7 linked regions of the Homo sapiens genome follow. The protein of the gene in region 5 purifies or fractionates together with the protein of the main gene of each other region. This does not show direct contact. Each region holds a gene or a part of one and is shown on either strand. Other genes may lie near its edges.

Region 1 (3,500 bases), on a different chromosome or scaffold from region 5:
ACACAGCCTCATCCTGCCCCACGGCCTCCTGCACAGTGTTCTCCACTGCCCGGAGCTGCTCTGGGGTCAATGGGGTCTGGAGGGGTGGGGAGGAAATGGAAAGACCAACATGCAGTCAGCCCCACACCTCTAACTGATGCATTGAAACACGGTCAATGTTCACTGAGCTATCCCCAGGTTCTAGAATAGTGGCTAGCACATAATAGGTGCTCAATAAACACTACCTGAGCAGACAATTATTTTCCTTAGAAAGCTATCTGGGAGTTGGGCCTATTGGAAGCTCCAGGCCTTTCACCAGGCACCAAAAGTTAAAGAAACAGAAAAAGGAGGCTGTATCCACATGGAGCTTACAAGGGGTAGCCCAATGGAAGAGAGAACTACAGGATGGGGGGATGCAGGGGCAGGGAATAAGCAGGTGGGATGGGGATTAGCCAGCAAGTACTTCCTGGAGAAAGGATTTAAGCCAGATGTGTAAGAAGCGCAGGGAGACAGGGTGGCAGCAGAGGGAGAGGGCAGCCCAGTTTAGGCAAGAATGGCTTGGATGACAGTAGAAACAAGGAAGGGGAGCGGCTGGAGGTGAAGGGAAGGCCCCTGCTGGAGGGCCTTCAGGATCCCACATCAGAGCTGGGCGAGGCCCCAGACACTCTGTAGCCTGACTCCTCACTGCTGCACAAGGAGCCCAAGGGGAAAGGACTTGCCCAGGGTCCCATAGTGATTGGGTGGCCGTGCTGGGCCTAGAGCCCAGGACTCTAAGGGCAACCCGCTCACAGCAGGCTGTCTCTCTTTTATGCCTGTCACCTCACATGAAGCCTGTCTTTCTATGCCGGGCTCACCTGGGTGGTCACATCCAAGCGCAGCTGCTCAGGATTGAGATGGGAGCCCTGCTGCTCTGTGCCAGGGCCCAGGGTCTGCCTCAGTGCCCAGTTCAGCAGGTGGGTGGCCGTATGCTTCGCCATGCAGCCTAGACGCCAGGCCTGAAATACTTTTGTCACCCAGCGTCCTGGGTGAGGGCAGGGGGTTGGGAGAGTGAAGGGGCTGCAGGGTATTGGGAACAGTTAGGGAGGATCCTTACCTCATCCACATGCAGCTGCACCTGGTCCCCTAACCGCAGGCACTCAGGGGCTACTGCCTCATGCAGGATGAAACCTCCACAGACCTGGGCCCGGGCTACTGGGAACAGCACGTCCTGAGGGAGGGTAGTGGTCAAGGTGCCTGTAGCCTTTCCCTCCCCTTGGCTCCCACTCAGGCTTGGGTCTGCCGCCCACAGAAATCAGCCTGGGTTGTGATGGAGACTCACCTCTTGCCCTGCCCGCACCAGGTAGCCACGGTCTGAAGCCTGGCCCCCCTGTTCTGCGTAGAAGTTGGTCCTGTCCAAGAGGAGGCCACAGCGCTGGCCTTTCCCCACGGAGGCCACTGCTGTCCCGTCCTCTGTATACAGTTGCAACACCTGGGCCTCACAGGTGCCGAACTCTGCCAGGGCACAGAATGGTTATTAGTGGTGGGCAGGGGCTGGGGACGTGAAGGTGGGTCTGTGCCTGGAGGCCAACAAGCACCCCCGCTGGCAGGGGCACTTCCAGCTGGGGGCCACAGAGACCCCTGGTGGCCATCCTGGGGAATACATAGGGGCTAGCAGCAACCATCTTGGACATTCTTCTTAGTCATGGTCAGGCAAGCTTGTGGCGGCAGGCCTTGGTCCAGGCTCTCACCATAACTTCCGCTGGGTCGCAGGGAGTAGTTGTACTTGGGGCTGTCGTCAGTTGGGGGCACTCCTTGGCGCTGCAGCTCCCCAAGCGCATGGACATCAAGCCACAATCCCTGCTTCTGAACTGGCTCAGCCTGCCGTGCCCGGTGCTGCAGGGTGGGCATGGGCATGGAAGAAGTGCATGGAGAATGAAAGAATGAAAGTGGGACTTCAGCCTCGCAGGGCCCTGTCCCTGCCACACAGCTGTGGACTCTGCAGCCCTTCTGGAATAAGAACTCAGGGCTTGGCTGGCTGCTAGAGCCCCTGAGCTGGTTGAACCATCCATCATGTCGGCTCCTCGGGATTAGGCCTTCCTGCCCACTGCTGCCCCTGGAGGGCCCCTCTCCAGGAAGCTGTGCTGGCTTCTGCTCCTGTGTTTAGCCCATTGGCTAGTTTTGCTTTCTACTGGTTGTGGCCTGAGGTTTTAGAAACCTCCCAGGTGAGGGGACAGATCCTATCTCAGCCTCTTGATTCCTCTCAATATTCACAGCTCCTCCCCCAGGAGCTCAGGGCTGGGGAAGAGGTGTCCTAACAGAACCCAGCATGGGGTGCCACAGCTTGTACCTGGGCCTCCTCTTGGGCCAACCGCTCCAGTCCAGCGGAGTCTAGCTGGACCCCTTTCTCCTCCAGCATCAGCTCTACCATGTCCAAGGGGAGTCCCAGGTCTCCACACAGTGACAAGGACCAGGCCACTTCAGCTTTGAGAAAGAAAGACAAAGAATGTTGAGGAGGGGAGGGATTAGACAAAGAAGGGGAGAAAAATAAGGTCCAGGGCCCTTCTAACCACGCAGAAGCCACCAGATGCCAAACACAAATACCCGCTCCATACTGGGTAGCCTCAGGAGAGGGGTCACATTCAGGCTTCATGCCTCAAGGCCAGAGCTGGGGGTAGTCCAGGGTACTCCCTGGGCACACATCATTTCAAGGGAGGAGGGAAGCTCAGTCTATGCACGAAGCCAACCTAGGAAAGCAGGAGGCAGGGCTAGCTGGGCACTGTGGACATGGGGAGAGGCAGGGTGGTATTCCTGCTGCAGAGGGGTCTGGGTATGGAAGGAGAGTCCAGGGAGAAAGGAACATTGGGAAGAGGTCAGGGGTGGATATGAGGCATGGGGCTGGCCCAGAGCTCCCTCCTCTGCCCACCTTGGTGAGTCTCAGCGAGCCCCTTGTGCATGGGCTAGGTATCCTGCTTACCAGGGAACATATCTGAAGGCCCCAGGGTCCTCAGAGTCCGATCAATGATCCGCCTACCCCGCTCCAGGGAGGCCAGGAAGGCTGCCTCGTCCTCTGACACCAGGTTGGCGATCTGAACCAGGCAGAGAAGAAGTGGAGCTGGGTCTCCTTGGAAGGAGGGTCTCTCTCCACAACTCTCCCATCAACCCCTTTCTCTCCCACTGGAATCCAGTACCTGGGCTGAGTTCCTTTGCAGTTCTGGATAAGCATCTCCCTGGGGGAGGTGGAGAGGGCTGAGGAGGTGTGAAAGGCAACCAACCCACCCCCACCTCCCCACCCTGGGCCTCCCTGAGGACACCTGCCCTGGAGGCTCAGACACATTGAGGGGCTGGGAGAGGGACTCAAATGGGGAACTGGTTTCCCTGTAGGGTGGCAGAAGGGGGTCCTGAGGTCAAGGGCTGAGCAGTTTGGAAAAGGAGCCTCCTCAAGTTCTCCTGCTTCTTGTAAGCAAGGACAGCTTTCTTAGCTTGCTGATAGGATGCTGGGCTCGATATTTAGGGTGGGGACCTCTGGGCACCCAGGCTGGGGG
Region 2 (3,135 bases), on a different chromosome or scaffold from region 5:
CTGCAGCCTCGAACTCCTGGGCTCAAGGGATCCTCTTGCCTCAGCCTCCTGAGTAACTGGGACTACAGGCTCACGCCACCACACCTGGATAATTTTTTCATCTCTGTAGAGAGGAGGTCTCGCTGCGTTGCCCAGGCTGGTCTCGAACTCCCCGACTCATGAGATCCTCCTGCTTCAGCCTCTCAAAGTGCCGGGATTACAGGTGTGAGCCACTGCCCGTGGCCTAAAATGTTTTGAGTGGTTGAAATAATTCTCAAATATTCAGAAAACGTGTCATAAATGTATTATTGGAGGTTTTTTGTCTGTTTTGTTTTTTGAGATGGAGTTTAGCTCTTGTTGCCCAGGCTAGAGCGCAATGGTGCGGTCTCGGCTCACTGCAACCTCTGCCTCCCAGGTTCAAGCGATTCTCCTGCCTCAGCCTCCCGAGTAGCTGGGATTACAGGCAAGTGCCACCATGCTCAGCTAATTTTGTATTTTTAGTAGAGATGGGGTTTCTCTATGTTGGTCACGCTGATCTCCAACTCCCGGCCTCAGGTGATCTGCCCGCCTTGGCCTCCCAAAGTGCTGGAATTATAGGCGTGAGCCACTGCGCCCGTTCTGGAGTTTTATATACTGGTACCCCTGAAAACGAGAGACTGTCCAAATAACCCCAACACGACAGAGGGCTGGAAATTTTATACCTAATGGAAAGGGACAGAAGTGCCCTTCTGAAGCTTTTTATTTCAAGGTCTGCTGTAGAAGGTAACCTTGTACTTCTGGCTGGCCTGTTTGTTTTGATGCTGGTACTTAGGCCCACGGCACCTTCTTTTGTCCTACCATTGTGGGGTTTCCTATCTCCGAGGCAACCTGGCTGTGCCATTTTGACGAAATAAGTCTGTAAAAGGAGTGCTCTCAAGGGACACAGCATGTACCTCTGGCGCAGCCTGTGTAAAAAGGCAGGCTGTGGTTGCCCACGCTGTAGCGGGAGAACCCAGGCTTTGGACTTGCTCAAGTTTGGGTCTGAATGCCAGCTGTGGGACTTTGGGCAAGTTACTATACTTCTCTGAATCTCATTCTCCCTCTTTGAAAAATGAATACAAGTACCTGCCTTCTTAGCATGTGAAATGCTTAGAAGATAGGCCTTCCACCAACTCATGGGAGGTTTCATTAATTATTCTCCCTGATAATCCTACCTTGCCAGAAGTCTGTCTCTATTTTTTTTTTTTTTTTGAGATGGTGTCTCACTCTGTCCTCCAGGCTGGAGTGCTGTAGCGTAATCTCGGGCTCACCGCAACCTCTGCCTCCCGGGTTCAAGCAATTCTCCTGCCTCAGCCTCCTGAGTAGCTGGGATTACAGGCATGCACCACCACACCTGGCTAATTTTTTGCATTTTTAGTAGAGACAGGGTTTCACCATGTTGGCCACGCTGGTCTCGAACTCCTGACCTCAGGTGATCCACCCACCTCGGCCTCCCAAAGTGCTGGGATTACAGGCGTGAGCCACGGCACCCAGCCTGTTTCTCTCTTATCTTGACCAAGCATGTGACAGTCAAGGGGAGGTGTCTTTCCCACCTCAACATACCCCTAGACCACACAGTGCTTCACAAGGAACTTCTTTCTTCCCAACCAGAGTCTTTCTTACCCAGTCCAAAGCGGTAACCATCAGAAAAGCGAGTGCTGGCATTCCAGAACACACAGGCACTGTCTACGTGCTGCAGGAAGAACTCCGCTGTGTTTTCTGCAGGGTGAAGAAGGAGAAACCAAGTTAGGATGATACCCAGAGAACATCCCTGTTTCCAGCCATTGACTGGTGACAGATCAGGGCAGGGTCTGGGTCCCCACTGGGGCCTCTCCATGTGTTCTCACGTATTAAATACTCAGGCTTATGAAAAATCTCAACAGGAAGAAGACAAGTTAGCTTCATCAATCACGGTGTTGTGGAAAGACTGAGTTGGAATCCAGATCTCCCATGCAGGTGACCTGCCTAAACTTCCTACTTATGGGCTCCAGAGCCAGACTTCCTAGGCCTGAACTCCAGCTGTACACCTGCTAGCTTTGTGACCTTCTGCAGGTGTACAAAACTCTCTGTGTCTGGGTCAAAAGGGACTTACAACATGACCTAGCTGATAGGGTTGTAGAGAGGATGAAACACCTGGGGAGTACTCATGCTAGTGCCTAGCACACAGTGAGTGCTTGGTAAATGTTGGCTGTTAATACGGGTGGTACTGCTCTGGTGCCCTAATTAGCTGACTGTAAATTCCTCATTGGGGCCCTACTGGCATCCTCCACCATTGAGGCTCCAGTATCTGACACCCAGGAGTGTCCCTGCATACATATTTGTGGAATAAATGAATGAATGAATGAATGTGCAGAGTTGGTTCTGCCTTGGTTTCCTCAGCTGTAAAATGGGTTTATTTTAACTACCTTGTAAGATTTGCTGCACGCATTAAATGATAGTGCCTCTGACAGGGTTAGTCATCTTCGAAGCAGAGCTAATCATCCCTGCCCCTCCTCCTCCAGCTGTGACAATATAATAAAGTGATGTGAAAGCACTCATCAAAGTACCAAATGCAACCACTACTAAACATTACCATAAGCCTACTCAAATGATGTTTTTCTGCAGCCCAAGGGGGGCTAAGAGGAGCAGGATCAGAAAGCAGCAAAGGCAGACACTGTATGCGGGAAGCATCTGGACACTGACCGTCCTCTGTGACGATGACATCCGTGTGGGAGCTGCCATACTTGTGGATGTGGTCAATGGCATCCTGAACGTTGTCCACTACTTCAATGCATAATTCCAGGTCCCCATACTCAGTTCGGAGTGACTTCACTTCGGAGGGGCTGAAGGTCAGATAGGAGGCAAATTTGGGGCCTGCATGAATTTTTACCTGGAACAGAGGAAGTCCAGGGGCAACAACATAAAAACAACTGAAATAAGCAAGTTCTAGGATAGAACAGAAAGGTGAGCCTGTAAAACCACAGCCCAAAGTGGCTCCTGTAGCCTCAACAACTGAACTAGTCCTACTTTCCTCCCTCCAGCATGATCTGACTGGCCACTTGCCAGCAATGGGCCCTCAAGACAGTTGGAACAGGGATTGAAGCAGGAAGCCTTGAACGTTAAGGATGTGCAAGGTGGGCCGGGCATGGTGGCTCACGC
Region 3 (3,500 bases), on a different chromosome or scaffold from region 5:
GTTTAAAGCCAGCAATTAGGGTGAAAATCTTGGCAAGGCATGGTGGCTCATGCCAGTAATCCCAGCACTTTGGGAGGCTGAAGTGTAAGGATTGCTTGAGCCCAGGAGTTTGAGACCAGCCTGGGCAACATAGTGAGACCTTGCCTCTGCAAAAAAAAAACCAAAAAACAAATATTAGCCGGGCATGGTGGTGTACACTTGTAGTTCCAGCTACTTGGGAGGCTGACGTGGGAGGATTGATTGAGCCTGGGTGGTTGAGGCTGCAGTGAGCCGTGACTGTACCACTGGACTTCAGCCTGGGCAAGAGTGAGACCCCATCTCAAATTTCAAAAATGAATTTTGTTTCTTTAAAAAAGTAAAAATCTCAAGTAGATGAAATTTAAAATGTACGACGTGGACAGTCATGCACACTGCATAGACTGCATATGCAAAATGTGATTTTTTTTTTTTTTTTGGAGATGGAGTCTCGCCCTGTCGCCCAGGCTGGAGTGCAATGGTGCGATCTCGGCTCACTGCAACCTCTGTCTCCTGGGTTCAAGCAGTTCTCCTGCCTCAACCTCCCAAGTAGCTGGGATTACAGGCGCCCACCACCATGCCCAGCTAATTTTTTTTGTGGTATTTTTAGTAGAGACGGGGTTTCAACATGTTGGCCAGGCTGGCCTCAAACTCCTGACTTTGTGATCCACCCGCCTCGGCCTCCCAAAGTGCTGGGATTAAAGGTGTGAGCCACCATGCCCCACCGATTTTTTTTTTCTTTGTAGAGACAGGATCTCACAATGTTGCCCAGGCTGGTCTCAAATTTAGAGACCCAGGTGATCCTCGTGCCTCTGCCTCCAAAAGTGCTGGGATTAGAGGTGTGAGCTACTGCACCTGGCCCACAATATGATTGTACAGTATTTTAAATTTCTAGTTTGTTTGTAATTAATTTTTTTCCCAGCGCACATCATTGAATTTCTGTAAGTTAAATGTACATGATATGGCCTCAATGAATAACTCTCTGCTTCTCTTTCAGGCGAAACTTGGCCTTGAGACAAATATCAAAATAGAGTGGTGGATGCAGTTGGGGAAAATTGGAGCCTTTTAATAAAATGACATGCTCCAAATCCTGGGTGGTTTCCATTTTCAGGATGAGGGATTAAATGTGTCTGGAGACAGGGCACAGGGGTAACTAGTTCTTAGTCTTTGAAAAAAAATTTTTTAATTTTTAATTTTTTTTGTTTGAGACAGAGTCTCACTCTACTGCTGCCCAGGCTGGAGTGCAGAGGCGTGATCATGGCTCGCTGCAGCCTCAGCGTCCCCAGGCTCAGGTGATCCTCCCACCTCAGTAACTGAAACCACAGGCATGTACCACCATGCCCAGCTAAATTTTTATATTTTTTGCTAAGACAAGGTCTCACCATGTTGCCCAGGCAGATCTCAAACTCAGGCCAAGCACAATGGCTCACGCTTGTAATCCCAGCACTTTGGGAAGCCAAGGCAGATGGATCACTTGAGGTCAGGAGTTCGAGATCAGCCTGACCACCATGGCAAAATCCTATCTTTACTAAAAATACAAAAATTGGCCAGGTGTGATGGCTCTTGCCTGTGATCCCAGCACTTGGGAGGCCGAGGCTGGGGGGATCACTTGAGGCCAGGAGTTCAAGACCAGCCTTGCCAACATGGCGAATGCCTGTCTCTACCAAAAATACAAACATGTAGCTGGACGTGGTGGCACACACCTGTAATCCCAGCTACTCGGGAGGCTGGGCATGAGAATTGCTTAAACACAAGAGGCAGAGGTTGCAGTGAGCCAAGACTGTGCCACTGCACTCCAGCTTGGGTGACAGAGTGAGACTCTTGTCTTAAAAAACCTACAGGAACCTCCTGGGCTCAAGTGATCCCCCCGGCCTTGGCCTCCCAAAGTGGTAGGATTACAGGCGTGAGCCAATGTGTCCTGCTGGTCTTTTAAATTTATTGCAACATTCTGTCACAGTAGTGCTTACTTGCCCCTTGCTGAGGCCTATTAGCTTATCTTCCCTGTCTTATCTGAGCTGTTCTCTTCTCCAGGCTTCTTGCACCTGGGTGGCCTCCGCACTGCCTTGTACAACTACATCTTTGCTAAGAAGTACCAGGGGAGCTTCATCCTGAGGCTAGAGGACACAGATCAGACTCGCGTTGTGCCTGGGGCAGCGGAGAATATTGAGGACATGCTGGAGTGGGCAGGTAAGCCTGGCAGAGAAAGGATCTTTCTGCAGGGAAGGAACAGGAAGCAGGAAAAGGAGCCTGTGGGTCTTCTCATGGAGTTCTGAGTGGAAAATGGGGAGTTCCTGGAGAAGTGGCTACATTTGTACTGCCCTGCCCGGGGTGGCAGATGACACCTGAAAAAATGCCGAAGCTCTCTGAAACACAGCTCCAAGACTGGTTTCTTTATTTTTATTTATTTATTGTTTTTGAGACAGAGTCTTGCTCTGTTGCCCAGGCTGGAGTGCAGTGGTGCGATCTCGGCTCACTGCAAGCTCCGCCTTCCGGGTTCACGCCATTCTTCTGCCTCAGCCTCCAAGTAGCTGGAACTACAGGCGCCCGCCACCACGCCCGGCTAAGTTTTTTTGTATTTTTAGTAGAGACGGGGTTTCACTGTGTTAGCAAGGATGATCTTGACCTCCTGACCTCGTGATCCACCTGCCTCGACCTCCCAAAGTGCTGGGATTATAGGCATGAGCCACCGCGCCCAACTTGGTTTCTTTATTTTTTAATTTTTTAGAGTCAGGGTCTCATTTTGTTACCCAGGCTAGAGTTCCATGGCACAATCATAACTTACTGTAGCCTCGACCTGGGCTCAAGTGATCCTCCACCTTAGCCTCCCAAGTAGTTGGGACTACAGGCACGCACCACCACGCCTGGCTAATTTTTAATTTTTTTGTAGAGATGAGATCTCACTGTGTTGCCCAAGCTATTCTCAAACTCCTGGGCTCAAGCAATCCTCCTGCTACAGCCTCCCAAAGAGCTGGGATTACAGGTGTGAGCCACTGCCAAGGCTGTTTTGAGATTCCTGTTTTCACCTCAGAATCTCAAGTTCATTCCCTACAGGGGCCAGGCAGGAAACACAGGGCCAAGTGGGAACTGGAGGAGCTGGGCCAGTGCTGAGCTGTGAAAACCACACCTCATCCAGAGTTGGGAGTGCCTCTGAGCTCCAGCTCCTTGTGCCCATGCGGGAATGCTGGCCCAGCTTGTCCAATCCTCTGAGTTGCAAGAGGAGCCAGAAATCCAGTTTTTCTGGATGAATACTTAACCATTATTAAATCTGGGCTCAGATTTTTTTTAACCATGTTGTATAAGCCACACAAAACACGTACAGCTTCTGAAGTTGATCTTGTGGGAAGTTTTATCCTGAGGACAGCTAAGGTCAGGGAGAACAAAGAGGAGTGTGTTTCCTTTTCATGGGTCGACAGTTGTCTACCTGTATGGACGGGTGTGACTAGGAAAGGGGAGATTCCCAAGGAAAAATACCAAGACTCTGCTAG
Region 4 (3,500 bases), on a different chromosome or scaffold from region 5:
ATATAAATGGATTCTGTACTAATGAAACAAATGAAGATGACATTAATTATAAGGGGGAAATTAGAAAACAAAAATGAGCTCTACGAATCAAAAATATAATACATGAATGTAAAAATAAGTAGAAATATAAAGTTGACAAATCTTTAAGAACACAGAAAAAAAAGGCAAACAGATATACTATAGAAAAGATAAGAGCAGGCAGGGAGCAGTGGCTCATGCCTGTAATCCCAGCTCTTTGGGAGGCCAAGGTGAGTGGATCACGAGGTCAGGAGTTTGAGACCAGCCTGACCAACACGGTGAACCCCCGTCTCCATTAAAAATACAAAAATTATCCGGGTGTGGTGGTGTGTGCCTGTAATCCCAGCTACTCGGGAGGCTGAGACAGGAGAATCGCTTGAACTAGGGAGTCAAAAGTTGCAGTAAGCCGAGATCACGCCACTGCACTCCAGCCTGGTGACAGAGTAAGACTCTGTCTTAAAAAAAAAAAAAAAAAAGATAAGAACATCAGCACATCAGGATATTATTTAAGGAGGTCCGTAGCTTATGACTAGGAGTTCTAGAAAGAGAACCCATATGAAAATGACAAGAAAAATACTGTCAAAGAAATAATACAAGAAAATTTCCTAGAGCTATAAAAATATTTTTTAAAAAAAGGTGAGATGAAAAAGACCCAATAAAGGTTCAGTACCATGTAGGAAAAAATACACCAAGTTATACATCAATACAAAAAATAAAGAAGAGGTCCCAATACTTTCAGAAAGAAAGATCCTGAATGAGAATGGCATCAAATTTCTGATCAGAAATATTGAAAGCCAGAATAAAAATCTAGAATAAAAAACAGATCAATGCTTATAAACTTGCTTATGAATTTCCTGAATGGAAATAATGTCAAGCTTAGTCAGGCTATTAATCAATTATAAAAATAGAATAAAGACATTCCCAAACAGGAAAAGTTTCAAATAATTTATCTCCCATGCACCATTTTTAGCAGGTTTCTATGAGATGTACTTCCAAATAACCAAGAGATAGACATGGGATTCAAGATTCAGAATTAAACAGAGGAGAAATGAAAATATATTCCTACTATAATGGCAAAGAGGAGTCAAAGAACAGCAATAGTGAGCAGAAATAGAGAAAAAACAATTTAAGTCAAATGAGAACATTAGAAGAATTCAGAAAAGATTACATTGAGATATAATTATATTGGTAGTAAGGGAGGAGGAAAAGTAGGGGTATGAATCAGCCAAAATCTAAACTACCCTACTAGGAAAGCAATAGATAGTGTCTAAGGTCTCATGTGTAATGTCTACAGTTGATAAAATTACAAGAAATAGTATACATGTGATTTTAAACTATGCAGATAAAAACAAAAATAAGCAAAGAAGTATGTATCTTACTCCAGGAAGCAGGAAAAAACAAGTGGATGATCAAAAACTGCTGTTCTTTGTATGAGCTTTTTAATACTAGCTGTCTTTTTAATTCTTTTAATAAAATACTTTAATAGAAATGTATTTTTAAATGGATTGTTTTGAAAACTATAAAATCAAATCTGAATTTTTTTTGCAAACATCGTTTAAATTATTATATAAATCTGTAAGTGATTTGATTTATAAATTTAAAATCTATAAATCTTGACTTGTAAGTTTTAAAATCTATAAATCTTTACAAATCTGTAAATTCTGAAAACAAAGTTGCAAAGTGGAAAAACTTACCTTTAAAGCAGCATCATAAACATCATTTGTGAGACATTCCATCATGTAAGAACCTCCCCAAGGATCAGCCACTTTGGGAATCCCAGATTCTTCTTGAATGATGATTTGTGTGTTCCTGGCAATTCGAGCACTTTTCACAGTTGGCAAACCCAAAGCTTCATCAAAAGAATTTGTGTGCAAAGACTGAGTCCCTCCAAATACTGCTGCCATTGCTTCTATTGCAGTACGGACAATATTATTGTAGGGATCCTAAAATATTTGATAAAAAACAAAAACTCAAAGAAACAGGTGATAGATATTGCAACTATAAACAGCAACATGATTAAACAGCAACTGCTGCATATTTTCTATGTCAATTTCCATATTAAGCTTCAGAATAGCAAATAAATTCAGACAAATTAGTTTAGAAGCCAAAATTAGAAGAGTCAGAGTTCAGTGTTTAGTGCCTCTTATAATCCTCTGAAATATCAGATATTGTTGTGCTTACTTTTATATTGCCTAAATACTTTTCTATAAGTATATCAACAATGCATTCTTTTTCTACTTAAGATTATATAGTCCTTCATTTCATAATTCACTCTTTGCTGATTATTTTGTCTACCTCACAGTATCTACCACAATGATGTGTACAAAACAGGCACTGAATAAATGTTAATAAAATAGATGAACAATGAACTGAGATATCAGAAATTTGAGTTCTAGTTTATTGCATGCCTAATTGTGATTTGGGCAAGTCATTGGATCTCTCTGAACTTCAGTTTCTTTAGCTGAAAAAATAAGCAGGTTAAAATAAAAATGATTATTAAAGTTCCTTCCAACCCTAAAAATCTCTTATTTCTCCATGTATTTATTTATTTATTTTTATTTTATTTATTTATTTATTTTGAGACGGAGTCTCGCTCTGTTGCCCAGGCTGGAGTGCAGTGGCGCAATCTCGGCTCACTGTAAGCTCTGCCTCCCGGGTTCACTCCAATCTCTTGCCTCAGCCTCCTGAGTAGCTGGGACTATAGGTGCCTGCCAACACACCTGGCTAATTTTTTTGTATTTTTAGTAGAGACGGGGTTTCACCATGTTAGCCAGGATGATCTTGATCTCCTGACCTTGTGATCTGCCCGCCTTGGCCTCCCAAAGTGCTGGGATTTACAGGCGTGAGCCACTGTGCCAGGTCTATTTCTCCATTTATAAGAACCTGAAGTTTTATTTCATACAGAGTATAATAGTTATTATTCAACATTTAAATGTATAAAAGCAATGTAACTTTGCACATATAAATTATTTTTAAATGTACCAAAATAATTTCATATGTAAAGAGAACATGTATAAAAACAAGGCCATAACTATACAATTTTTAAGAGAACAAATTAAATTACCCAAGTAAAAACAGTCTTTAAACAGTCTGCTTGCATGCTTGCTTAAATACATAACTTTAACACATAAAATATGTATGTATATATAATTAATTTTAAATAGGCAGTTTTATGTTAAGAATTATAACTCTTACAATTATATGAGAGTACTAACTTATGACTTTTGCTTCCTTCTCATCATCAAATTCTGTTTTCTTTCTTTCTTTGTTTTTTTTTTTTTTTTTTTTAGACGTAGTTGTGCTCTTGTTGCCCAGGCTGGAGTGCAGTGGCGTCATCTTGGCTCACTGCAACCTCCGATTCCCAGGTTCAAGTGATTCTCCTACGTCAGCTTCCCAAGTAGCTGGGATTATAGGCATGCACCACCACGCCCAACTAATTTTGTATTTTTAGTAGAGGTAGGTTTTTGCCAGGTTGGCCAGGC
Region 5 (3,500 bases):
GGAACAAAACGACTCCCATCCAATTATTTAATTAGGGAAGAAGAGATCCCAAATTTTCTTGCTAATTTATGACAACTTGCCAAGCAGGCAAGAATCTGCAAGACAGGTCATCTGCAAAGGCATAGTGATATAGTAACATATTCTAACAGAATCTCATTTGGCAAAATCTTTCCATGCTCTGGTGACTTCTGACATTGAAGTGCCATAAGGGACATCTACCAAGAAATAGGAGCTGGTAGAATATTGAATGGAAAGCAACCCATGTGAGATCATTTCTAGGGAAGAGTAAGATCTGGGCACACAGGGTCAAGATTATCCAACACAAGGAGTGAACTGTAATAAAAGCACCGAACATCCTACAAAAGGGATTATTATTTTTAAAACCCTCAGCTATTTTATAGACTAGTAAGACTGCTGGTCAATTTAAAAGCCATGGAAAATGCCCCACATTATATTGATGGCTATAATTAGGTTAATTAGAAAGTGGCTATATAATAAAAGACATCCTAGATGCCAAAAGTCTTTAAAATAGAACCAAAGAACATCCACAGCAAAAGGGGAACTGGGGGAGACGCGTGAAGTTCACTTACCTTTGATCAGCAGCTCGTAGAACTGGGGTTCTATTGCTCCAACAGCCATGAATTCCCCATCTGCTGTCCTGTAAGTCGTATAGAAAGGTGCTCCACCATCCAACATGTTCTGTCCTCGAGGTGCTTCCCACAGACTCAATTTCTGAGTTTTCCACAGAAAAGAACTTAAATATGCTGTTCCTTCCACCTTTGAGAAAACAGAATACAAGACAAATCCAGATAACTCAAGTGTCAAAGCATGAATAATTCCTCCCATTCAAGTTAAAAAAAATTTGCGTAAAAATTCTTATCTTAGAGTATACGAAGATTCTACCTAATTACACAACTTCTCTGGTATTTCCAGAAAGTGAGTTAGAGCAGTTTGTGTTAAAATAACAATTGGCTGCACTATTCAGTTCCAAAAATACTATAAGACTTAGAAGAAATGACCTTTGCTTTCCATTTCAAATAAGATTGGCAAAATGCTAGTGATTTAGCTAGGTGAGGGTACATGGAAGGTCACTATACTATTCTCTCTACTTTTTATAATGTTAAAAACTGCCAAGATAAAAAGTTAAAAATTAAAAGAGCTTTTAAAAATCCATCTTCTGATCTCCATACCTATAAACACACACAGATGTATAAACCATACCACATTTTAAAGGTAAATCACATAAGAGTAAAATTTGGCTTATTCTGGCTTGATTCCAATCCCAAGAAAACTGTATTTGAGTATTTAATGTATTTCATAATCACTAGAAAGTTATAAAATAAACTAACAATATGGATGGCAGGTATGTGCATTTTCTGAGTCCAGGCAAACTGGTTTGGGAATGCCACCTTCCCACTGAGTCCTAAAGTCATCTCATCACGCCACCTTCCCACTGAGTCCTGAAGTAATTACACAATAAAGTACAATTATCACAAGGCTCAAACTCAAAGGCTGAAGGCACTGGACTATTTGAAGAAGATGATGTTCTGACCTTTATGCCTTTTATGAGCCTAATGTCTCCAGCACCCCAGGAGGAAGGCCTTCAAAGCATCCTCGTCTCAAAAGCTACCAATAGAGCAGGCCTCATTCCAACTGCTAGCAATTTCTCAGTTACTGACTGTGGAACAACCACAAAATGTATCTTTGGATATATCCAATTTTCCCTCTTAACTTGAAATTTCACGCACATCTGAATTTATGGCTGTGACATTTATTGTCACCAAATAGCTGAGTTCATGCAAGTGGCCTACGGCAGTGCCTTTTTTTGAGGCTGGATTACAGAGATATTAGAGTTCCACATTTATACACATACACACACACACATATATACACATATGCATGTATATGCGCACTATTTTAAATATATTTTATGTTTATGTTATTTAAGCACATATTTAAATGTATCCTATACCAAATTCTGACTCATCAGAGCCTCAACTCATTAACATTTGTTGCTAGACTTTAAAATAAAGCTTTTCCTTCCAATTTTGCATAAATATTACCTTGTATTTGAAACACTATTGAGGAAAACCTTTGTTCTGCATGGTTCTCCTCTCCTCTTAATTTGTGCTGACTCATACAAAACCAACAAGTTAGCACCTTCAATAAGCAAGTGCCTGCTTTCCGCTCAAGCTTTACTTCTCTCAGAGCCTAACGCCGAATCAATAGGGCGGTAATAGATGAACTGGAAGCAAGCTTGTCATACAGTGCAAGAGAGAGTTTTAGCAGAGAGTTCTGAATACTGTTTATCTGGCTTTCATGTTCAGGCCAAAGAATGTGAGAAGTTTTTACACACTGTAGTGAGTCGACCTAGAAACAAAGTATTTTTGTTCTGCTTCATCATAAATGAAATGCAATCTGAAATTTTAAGCAAGTTTTTAAAAATATAGGGTCTTTTTTTTTTTGAAATGGAGTGTCACTCTGTTGCCCAGGTTGGAGTGCAGTGGCACAATCTCAGCTCACCGTAACCTCCACCTCCAAGGTTCAAGCGATTCTCCTGCCTCAGATTCCCGAGTAGCGGGATTACAGGTGCCTACCACACCCAGCTAATTTTTGCGTAAAAACTATGGATATTTTTAACTTATCTCTGTAACTCAGGATTTTCCTAACATCCAGTCAAAATGAAATACAGTAATAAACTGAATACTGAAAGCGATGAGACAATCACCCATAAACTCTAACTTCCAGTGTTTGTGTTTAGCAGAACAGCTTCGTTGGTCTGACAAAATAATATATAAATATTGAATATGTAAACATAAAATGTTTTATGCTAATAAAATACCCCTTTAATCTCTTTTATATGTTGAACGCCCTGATGAGACTGCTGAAAAATAGACGTGTTAACAGAGTTACAGATCCAGTTGGGTCCACTCAGGACAAAAACAAGCTCTGGTCTAATCCTTAGCATCAGAGGAGGTACAGGACAAGAAATACAGCAGGAACCCTCCTCGTCTCATCATAAGGCCTGGCAGTGGCTACCCTGGCACACGGCTTCTCTTGCCCCATCACTCATATACCATGCATGCGAGTGAAGAGCCCCCTGACACAGGGAAACCGCAGCCTCAATTTGCCACCAACCTTTGATACTGTTAAAAGAAAAACTTTAGACGAATTAATTTAAGAGTTTAACTGAGCAACGAATGACTCATGAATTGGGCAGTCTGTGGAACCAGACTAGGTTCAGAGCGACTAGTGTAGCCCTGGGGCCAAAGAGGACTTATGGACGGAAAATGATGTACAGAAAACAGAAGTGAGGTACAGAAACAGCCGGATTGGTTACAAGTGGGCCTTTGCCTTGTTTGAACATGGTTTGAACAGCTGGCCGCCTGTGATTAGTTGAAGTACGGCTGCTGTGATTGGCTGAGACTTGCTGCTTGTTACAAAAGCAGGTTACAGTCTGTTTACACATCCAGTTAGGTCACAGCTCATTATGTAAGAGA
Region 6 (3,500 bases), on a different chromosome or scaffold from region 5:
CTGCAAAGATATGATAAATCAGAGCAAAACTCAATGGAAAATAAATCTATCTTCATGACTGTTGAAAATTTTAATCTACAATAATGACAATCCAACAAATTTAACTTTACACAGGAACAAAAAACCAAATATCACATGTTCTCACAAGTGGGAGCGAAACATCGAGGACATACGGACACAAAGAAGGGAACAACAGATACTGACACCTACTTGAGGGTGGAGAGTGGGAGGAGGGTGAGGATCAAAAAACTACCTATCAGGTACTATGCTTATTATCTGGATGACCAAACCATCTGTACAACAAACTCCTGTGACATGCAATTTACCTATATAACAAACCTGCACACGTACACTTGAACCTAAAATAAAAGTTAATAAATAAATATATAGAATGTGTAGATGGAAAAATAATTAACTTTAAAAAATTATAGAAGACATGACAGAAAATTACCATCAGAAGGTTAAGCATTTAAACTGTATTACATGAACCCCCACATATGGAGAATACTCATTTCCCCCTACTAAATTCTATCATTGCATTACGCTTTCAATGTTAATTTTTGAAGTGTAATGAAACTATTTAGGTATAACATATTTTCTACTGACTGATTTGGAAGGAAGACTTGATCCAACATGTTTACCAGGAAATTATGTTTTTAATTACCCCTCAAACAGGCTTACAGATTATAGGTCAAACTAAGGGAAAGAAACATTTATCCGATAATTTAAAAAATGGGTGCTTACCATGAGATCTGGAAAACCAACAACTATTGTAGCATAATTTTTCTCATCTGAGAGAATTCTGTTGGGAGAGGCAATCTTTTGTTCCACAGCTGAACTTAGATGTTCAGATGATAGTTGATCACTGGAAATTTTATGAGGTATGCTGAACTCTGTTTCTGAAAAGTACAAACATTAGACACCATATGCTCCTGAAATGCTCCAGGAATTAATTTTTTGCAAGATTTTATTCTCAACAAGTCAAATGGAAAAGAACAAGTTAAAAAAGAGAAAACATTTTAAATTACATTCATGGGCTTTTGTTTGAAAAAATGCTGTTTTTATAATCAAGGCATCTTCCCAAAGTGATTTCAAGTATTTACAGAATTCAAAATTTTATTAGGAATAAATATTATAATTAATAGCTCCCTGTAGAAAAGATGTAAAAACTGACCCAACCAAGGGTTGGCAATGGTATGTTTTAGATTTTTTTCGTAAGTACTATTCATCCCCCAAAACTGTGATAAATTAAATAGAAATCCCAATAGTCTGCAGAAAAAAGATGTTATCCTAAATTAGACTTGCAACCTAAATGTATATAAAAATACTGATCTGTCAGTTAAAAAAATTCAAGGACAGAGCTTACAACAGTGAACTTCCTTATGACAATTTGAGATACTAGATTCTTATTTACTATTTCTGGTGTAGTGACTAAGTTTTTTCTTTTGGTGTAAACTTAACATAGGCTGGTGTTTTGTTCTTAAATGATTCTAGAAGACAGTATATGTACAAGCATGCACTCACACAGCCATAAACACAGATGACATAGTATTTACCTTGTGTAACTCCAAACCCTGTGCTGGGCGGCTCCTCTTTCAGCACATACAACTGGCAAACCCCACTACCCTCAGATTCGATGTGTGCAGGCTTAGTTAAAAGATATTTCCTGCAAACAAACAAAACATCTAGCTTAAGTGAAATTTTTCTTTTTCTAATAGTAATAAGGCCAGACTAAGAAAAATTAGATTCTCCTCAGTCTCTTTTTTATAGTTCCAGTATAATTTGCAGTTTTAGAGTTTCATCATGAATTAACAAATAACTTCTCAACACTGTGTTAAAGAGCAGTGCACAACAGCAATACAGTAATGAATGTGAGGCAAAAATCCAATGCTTCCTATAAGAGAAAGGGTTGTGGGGAGGGGAAGCAACTCTAATGGGGTGCACTCTTATTATCATGTAACCCTCTCTTGATAAAACTCTTTGATCAGCCAGGAAGGGGGAGTATGACTTCTGATTTGTGATCAGCTAGGAGATAGATGCCCTCACAACTGTAGTCTCCTTGATCTACTTATTTTTAACATTTCTAAAATATGGATGTATATATAGGCAGAAATCCTCTGCAATGAGATACTTCTGCTTGTCAGCAGAGGGGCAGAAAGAGTCTGCACTTAGCTAGTGGAGTTGTGCATGAGGGAAGGTGCTCAAAGTCGACACCGCCTTTCATCAAGAACTGCACAGTCCAATGGGTCAGATAACATAAACATAAACATAACCACATCCAAACCAGAATACACAAGATAAAAAGAGAAAGACACTTCTAAGGTGTGAACTCTGTGAATTTACAAAGAGGCAACAGCTCTAGGATAGAGACTGTGGCTCTTTGAAGGGAAAATCTACTTTGAAGTGTCTCCAGTTTAGCAAGAATACAGTGAATTCTCAATGTACAAATAGGAAAAAGCCCAAATAAATATGGATCATATGAAAAAGTCATGATTTTTTAACTGTTAATTTCAATGTCATTTTCTGAGAAGTGACATTTATTTTTTCTCCCCTCCTCAATTCTTATAAGTCTCATATATAGAGATGCTGCCAAACACAGAAATTGTTAAAGGACAGACACAGGAAAGACAGAACAGTAAAGATGTTGGATAATTCATAAATAAGATTGAGCTACAACATACTCCATGATACACTATATAAAGCCACTCACTGATTTGTTTTGCTCTCCACCAGAAGCCATTTGTCCTCTGCTACAAGGAAAACTGTCTTGAGGTTGATGGGAAGTGAGATGGTGTGAGTTCGCCCTTCTAGAACATCCAGCACAGTCAGGCTGTTCCTGGAAAAGAAGAAAACTGTATCTGAAAGGAAATGGTGAGGATAATGGTTGAGTAATCTGGCATAATCATTTCATGATACATTATGCAACCCATAAAAAGAATGTTTTAAGATTAAGTAATAATATAGAAAAATGTTAATTAAAAAAACAGATATGCAAAATTCTAAACTATGTCAGGGTGTGTATAAGTAAAAATAATGGAAAGTAGTAACCATTGCCATGTTAGTAGTGGCTATGTCATGGAATTGTGAGCACTAGCTTTTCTTATATCTGTTTCTCAATATTCTGCAATGTGGGCAAGTTACTTTATATTAAAACATTCATAATTTGGTTACATTCACTTTATAGTAAACAAGTATAATCAAAATAGGAAATAGAATGGGCCAAATAAGAACTCCAGTTTAAATCCTCTATAATAAAGAGCTCACCCTTTTTCTTTGTAGAACACCAGCCAGTTTTTGTGTGAAAATTCTTTACACATTTTATAAGTTTCCTAAAGACAAACAAAACAAGATATTCATATTAAATGTGTCAGATACAGTCATGTCCCTCTTTAGCTACTTCCCCTTAAATAAAATAAAGTTCTTCAACTAGTAAAACATGTAATTCTCAAACAAGCTATCTATTTATCTGCTCTAAGACTCTTATGGTAAAATGGATTAAA
Region 7 (3,500 bases), on a different chromosome or scaffold from region 5:
TAGTTTTAAAAAAGTTAGGGCTCTTGATCCCCCACCCACAAAAATTGTTTCTCCCCATGTCAGGTTGGCATCGATCTTGACTCATTCCTTTCCCTTACCTATCAGCATCATTTAGCCCCATCTTTAAGACATGTCTAGAATCAGAACACTTCTTAGCATCAACTCCAGCACGGCCTGATGCCATGCTATTGTCTCAGGGCTTTATTGGCAGCAGCCTGTTTTTCTTGCTGGTATATAATATAAAGCTGGGTCTTGATGGTGTCTTAGATTTGATGAAATATGCTGTTTATTTTTCCCCATTTTAATAGCATTATATGTTTGTAGTACAAAACTTAGAAAACATACAAAGCATAAAAACTGCTAGATATTCCATCATCCACAGATAATCACTAGTGATTTTTTGGTTATACCCTTGCAGTCTTTTCACGCACATGAGCGTGAATACACAAACACTTACTCAAACATAGGTATGGACATACTCTTATGTAACCTGAGTTTTTTTTTTTTTTTTACTTGACAGCTTAAAGTAATGAATGTCTGCCCATGACATTAAAGTTTCTTCTGTAGCACAATCTCAAGTACGTTTTGTTTGTTTTTTGATTGTAGGGCAGTATGTGGTTTTCTTTCTGGGCCTGAGGCTCTTTGATGGACTGTGTCTGATGCACTTGGCCCTGTATCCCCAGGGCAAGGCACAAAAAGGTGCTCCGTACATATATTTTTCTCTCTTTTCTTTTTTCTTTTGTGGTAACAGCTTTATTGAGATGTAATTCATATACCGTATATTTTAAACACCTATTTATAGTGTACAATTCAGTGGTTTTTAAAATACATTCAGAGTTGGATAATTATTACCACAATCAATTTCAGGACATTGTCATCACCCCAAGAAGAAACCCTGTGCCCATTAGCAGTCACTCTGCATTTCAACCACAGATACTTCTGCTCTAGGCAATTACCAGGCTACTTTCTGTCTCTGTGGATTTTTTCATTCTGGACATTTCCTAGAAATGGAATCATATAATATGTGATCTTTTGTAACTGGTTGCTTTTACTTAGCATAATGTTGTTAAAGGCTCATCCATGTTGTATCATGAATCAGTACTTTATTCATTTTTATGGCCGAATAATATTCCAGTGTGTGGATATACCACATCTAGTTTATTCATTGACCAGTTAATAGACACTGGGTCATTTCCACTTTTCGGCTATCATAAATATGCCTGTATTAATATTTATATGCAAGTTTTTGGGTAGACATATGTTTTCATTTCTCTTTGATTTCTGAGTTAAATGATAACTCGATGTTTAACTTTTAAGGAACTGACAGACTCTCTTCCAAAGTGGCTGTACCCATTTATAAATATTTTTTGAATGAAAGAATTCTGTCATGCTGAAAATGCTTTTTATTCAACAAATACTCATTTAGAATATGTGGAAAAAGGCAAATAGCAAAGGAATTAAAAATTTAAAATAGAATAATAAAAATGTAAAAAAAGAAACAAAACAAAACAAATATTCATCGAGTACCTATGTGTGAAGCATTGTTTTAGGTGCTAGGAATACATCTGTGGACAGAACAAAAGAAAGACACCTGCCCATATGGGGCTTATATTCTAGTAGAGGAGATAGACAATAAACATTGTAAATAAGTACACTATGCAGTATGTTAGAAGGCAATACGTGCTATGGAAAAAGTATAACAGGGTAAAGGGGACTGGGATTGTTGTAGTTTCAAATAGGGTGGTAACAGTAGGCCTCACTGAGGTTAGGAGCTGAGCAGATTTTAAGGAGTTAACTGCATTGATATGTAAGTGGGGAGCATTGCAGGCAGAGGGGAACAGCTTATGCAAAGGCTCTCGGTAGGAGAGTGACTGGCCCGATCAGTGAACAAGGAGGATCATTGGAGTAGAGACATGACACGATCTGACTTAAAAAGCTCTGTCTGTCAGCTTTGTGGACAAGAGACCGTAGGGGCAATGGTGAAAGAAAGGAGTCTGGTGGGATGAACCTGGGGAGAGAGTTCTTGGCTCCGCTTTCTCCATCATACCTATGGCCTTGTTTGGCTGCTCTGTGATTTCAGAGTGCTCTTCAAGAATTATGGCTTGATTCTCACTAGGGGCAGGTGGCTCCCCTCCTTTCCTTCCACTGTTGCTGTGCACCTGTTTGCCAGGTACATTATTCTTAATGTTGGCCAGGCCTGATCTTACCCTGTTGGAGCTGATATTCCAGGAGAGATGTCCGGCAGTAAACAGGGAAATAGGTGATGCAGAGAAAAGTACGGGAGGAGAACTCCCGCATGGTATAGGGATGGATAGTGAAGGATCTGGGAGTGGGTATGGAGGTGACATTAGAGCAAGGACCTGAATAAAGAAAGGTGTGACCCCTGTAGAGGTGTGGTTGCAGAACAGAGGGAACATGTGCTGCATGAGTTGAAGGATCACCCGGAAGGTATGTATTATGTGGCATTACATCCTCAGTGGAGGGTGCAGAGAACAGAGCTATCAGCACGGTCTGCTACTGACATGCCCTAGAAGGGCGCAGTCAGGCATGAAGCAGCAACTTTGGGCTGGCTGGTACCCTGACTCAATCATATATGCTCCCTGTTCTCTTAGGTGTGGCCCACAGAGCTTTTGAAAATGATGTTGATGCCTTGTGTAATCTCCGGGATTTCTTCAACTACCTGCCCCTGAGCAGTCAGGACCCGGCTCCCGTCCGTGAGTGCCACGATCCCAGGTGGGTTGTAGGCCGGTGCACCTTCTCTCATTTTGCAGTGTAGCTTGCCTTTCTCTGCCCTGACAGGACCCCCAGGGTCTGCCTTGTTGGGCAAGTTGCAGCAGAGTGTGGTAGAGTGGCTCCCAGGTGTGGGGATGATGTCATGTTTGGCTATAGGAGCAAAGAAAGATGATTTTATTTTCCTTTTTCCTCTCTGTAATATCTAATGTATATCTTGGTGGTGAAGAGTGGCCCAAAACAGTTTTAAAGAAAAATTTTTTGATTTCTAAGAAACTCTCAAGTTATCTAGAATTAGAGATTCAAGTTTTTTTTGGTCTGGCCTAGTCCCCATGAAGAAGTCTCCCATTTCCTTTCCTTCCCCTCACCCACAAAAGGAAGAGCCATGATTCTTCTTATGCTGACTATACCTGGCTTTTTTCTGTCTAAAGTGACTGGTTCCTGGGCTCTACCTAGTTGTCCTTTTGAAATAAATAAATGTAAAATGATGCAAACAGCATGCCCTTTAGGAAACATGTTTATGCATACTGCTTATAGCCAGAGGCTGGGACAGTCCTGGGGAAGGGTGTGTTGCTGGCCATCTGGTGAAGACCTTTCCTTTTGCTGTTGGAGTCTACCACCTGTTGTGGAGGCACCATAGAGTAAAGTGGAGGCCCTGCCCAGGAACTGCTCCACACCTCTAGCCGTTCCATTTTATTTCCTCTCCAAATTATAAGCACTCACTTGGCCTGGACTTTCTTCTGCAGAAGGGATTTGAAATTGTATTGTTT

The links.
Region 1: the proteins of AMACR (region 5) and AARS2 purify together in Homo sapiens (affinity purification with mass spectrometry; one large-scale study listed by BioGRID and IntAct). This does not show direct contact.
Region 2: the proteins of AMACR (region 5) and ALDH18A1 purify together in Homo sapiens (affinity purification with mass spectrometry; one large-scale study listed by BioGRID and IntAct). This does not show direct contact.
Region 3: the proteins of AMACR (region 5) and EARS2 purify together in Homo sapiens (affinity purification with mass spectrometry; one large-scale study listed by BioGRID and IntAct). This does not show direct contact.
Region 4: the proteins of AMACR (region 5) and MMUT purify together in Homo sapiens (affinity purification with mass spectrometry; one large-scale study listed by BioGRID and IntAct). This does not show direct contact.
Region 6: the proteins of AMACR (region 5) and VWA8 purify together in Homo sapiens (affinity purification with mass spectrometry; one large-scale study listed by BioGRID and IntAct). This does not show direct contact.
Region 7: the proteins of AMACR (region 5) and PCCB purify together in Homo sapiens (affinity purification with mass spectrometry; one large-scale study listed by BioGRID and IntAct). This does not show direct contact.

The regions. Positions count from the first base shown.
Region 1 is NC_000006.12:44,303,348-44,306,847, forward strand, and holds part of AARS2 (alanine--tRNA ligase, mitochondrial), read right to left. Parts: intron 3,186-3,500; coding exon 3,147-3,185; intron 3,045-3,146; coding exon 2,933-3,044; intron 2,440-2,932; coding exon 2,306-2,439; intron 1,852-2,305; coding exon 1,707-1,851; intron 1,471-1,706; coding exon 1,298-1,470; intron 1,187-1,297; coding exon 1,073-1,186; intron 975-1,072; coding exon 834-974; intron 77-833; coding exon 1-76. UniProt on the Homo sapiens protein: Catalyzes the attachment of alanine to tRNA(Ala) in a two-step reaction: alanine is first activated by ATP to form Ala-AMP and then transferred to the acceptor end of tRNA(Ala). Also edits incorrectly charged tRNA(Ala) via its editing domain.
Region 2 is NC_000010.11:95,608,577-95,611,711, forward strand, and holds part of ALDH18A1 (delta-1-pyrroline-5-carboxylate synthase), read right to left. Parts: intron 2,867-3,135; coding exon 2,680-2,866; intron 1,717-2,679; coding exon 1,621-1,716; intron 1-1,620. UniProt on the Homo sapiens protein: Bifunctional enzyme that converts glutamate to glutamate 5-semialdehyde, an intermediate in the biosynthesis of proline, ornithine and arginine.
Region 3 is NC_000016.10:23,550,851-23,554,350, reverse strand, and holds part of EARS2 (nondiscriminating glutamyl-tRNA synthetase EARS2, mitochondrial), read left to right. Parts: intron 1-2,046; coding exon 2,047-2,202; intron 2,203-3,500. UniProt on the Homo sapiens protein: Non-discriminating glutamyl-tRNA synthetase that catalyzes aminoacylation of both mitochondrial tRNA(Glu) and tRNA(Gln) and participates in RNA aminoacylation for mitochondrial protein translation.
Region 4 is NC_000006.12:49,449,754-49,453,253, forward strand, and holds part of MMUT (methylmalonyl-CoA mutase, mitochondrial precursor), read right to left. Parts: intron 1,962-3,500; coding exon 1,713-1,961; intron 1-1,712. UniProt on the Homo sapiens protein: Catalyzes the reversible isomerization of methylmalonyl-CoA (MMCoA) (generated from branched-chain amino acid metabolism and degradation of dietary odd chain fatty acids and cholesterol) to succinyl-CoA (3-carboxypropionyl-CoA), a key intermediate of the tricarboxylic acid cycle.
Region 5 is NC_000005.10:33,998,051-34,001,550, forward strand, and holds part of AMACR (alpha-methylacyl-CoA racemase), read right to left. Parts: intron 778-3,500; coding exon 591-777; intron 1-590. UniProt on the Homo sapiens protein: Catalyzes the interconversion of (R)- and (S)-stereoisomers of alpha-methyl-branched-chain fatty acyl-CoA esters.
Region 6 is NC_000013.11:41,688,610-41,692,109, forward strand, and holds part of VWA8 (von Willebrand factor A domain-containing protein 8 isoform a precursor), read right to left. Parts: intron 3,330-3,500; coding exon 3,265-3,329; intron 2,837-3,264; coding exon 2,711-2,836; intron 1,667-2,710; coding exon 1,557-1,666; intron 900-1,556; coding exon 745-899; intron 1-744. UniProt on the Homo sapiens protein: Exhibits ATPase activity in vitro.
Region 7 is NC_000003.12:136,295,340-136,298,839, forward strand, and holds part of PCCB (propionyl-CoA carboxylase beta chain, mitochondrial isoform 1 precursor), read left to right. Parts: intron 1-2,612; coding exon 2,613-2,733; intron 2,734-3,500. UniProt on the Homo sapiens protein: This is one of the 2 subunits of the biotin-dependent propionyl-CoA carboxylase (PCC), a mitochondrial enzyme involved in the catabolism of odd chain fatty acids, branched-chain amino acids isoleucine, threonine, methionine, and valine and other metabolites.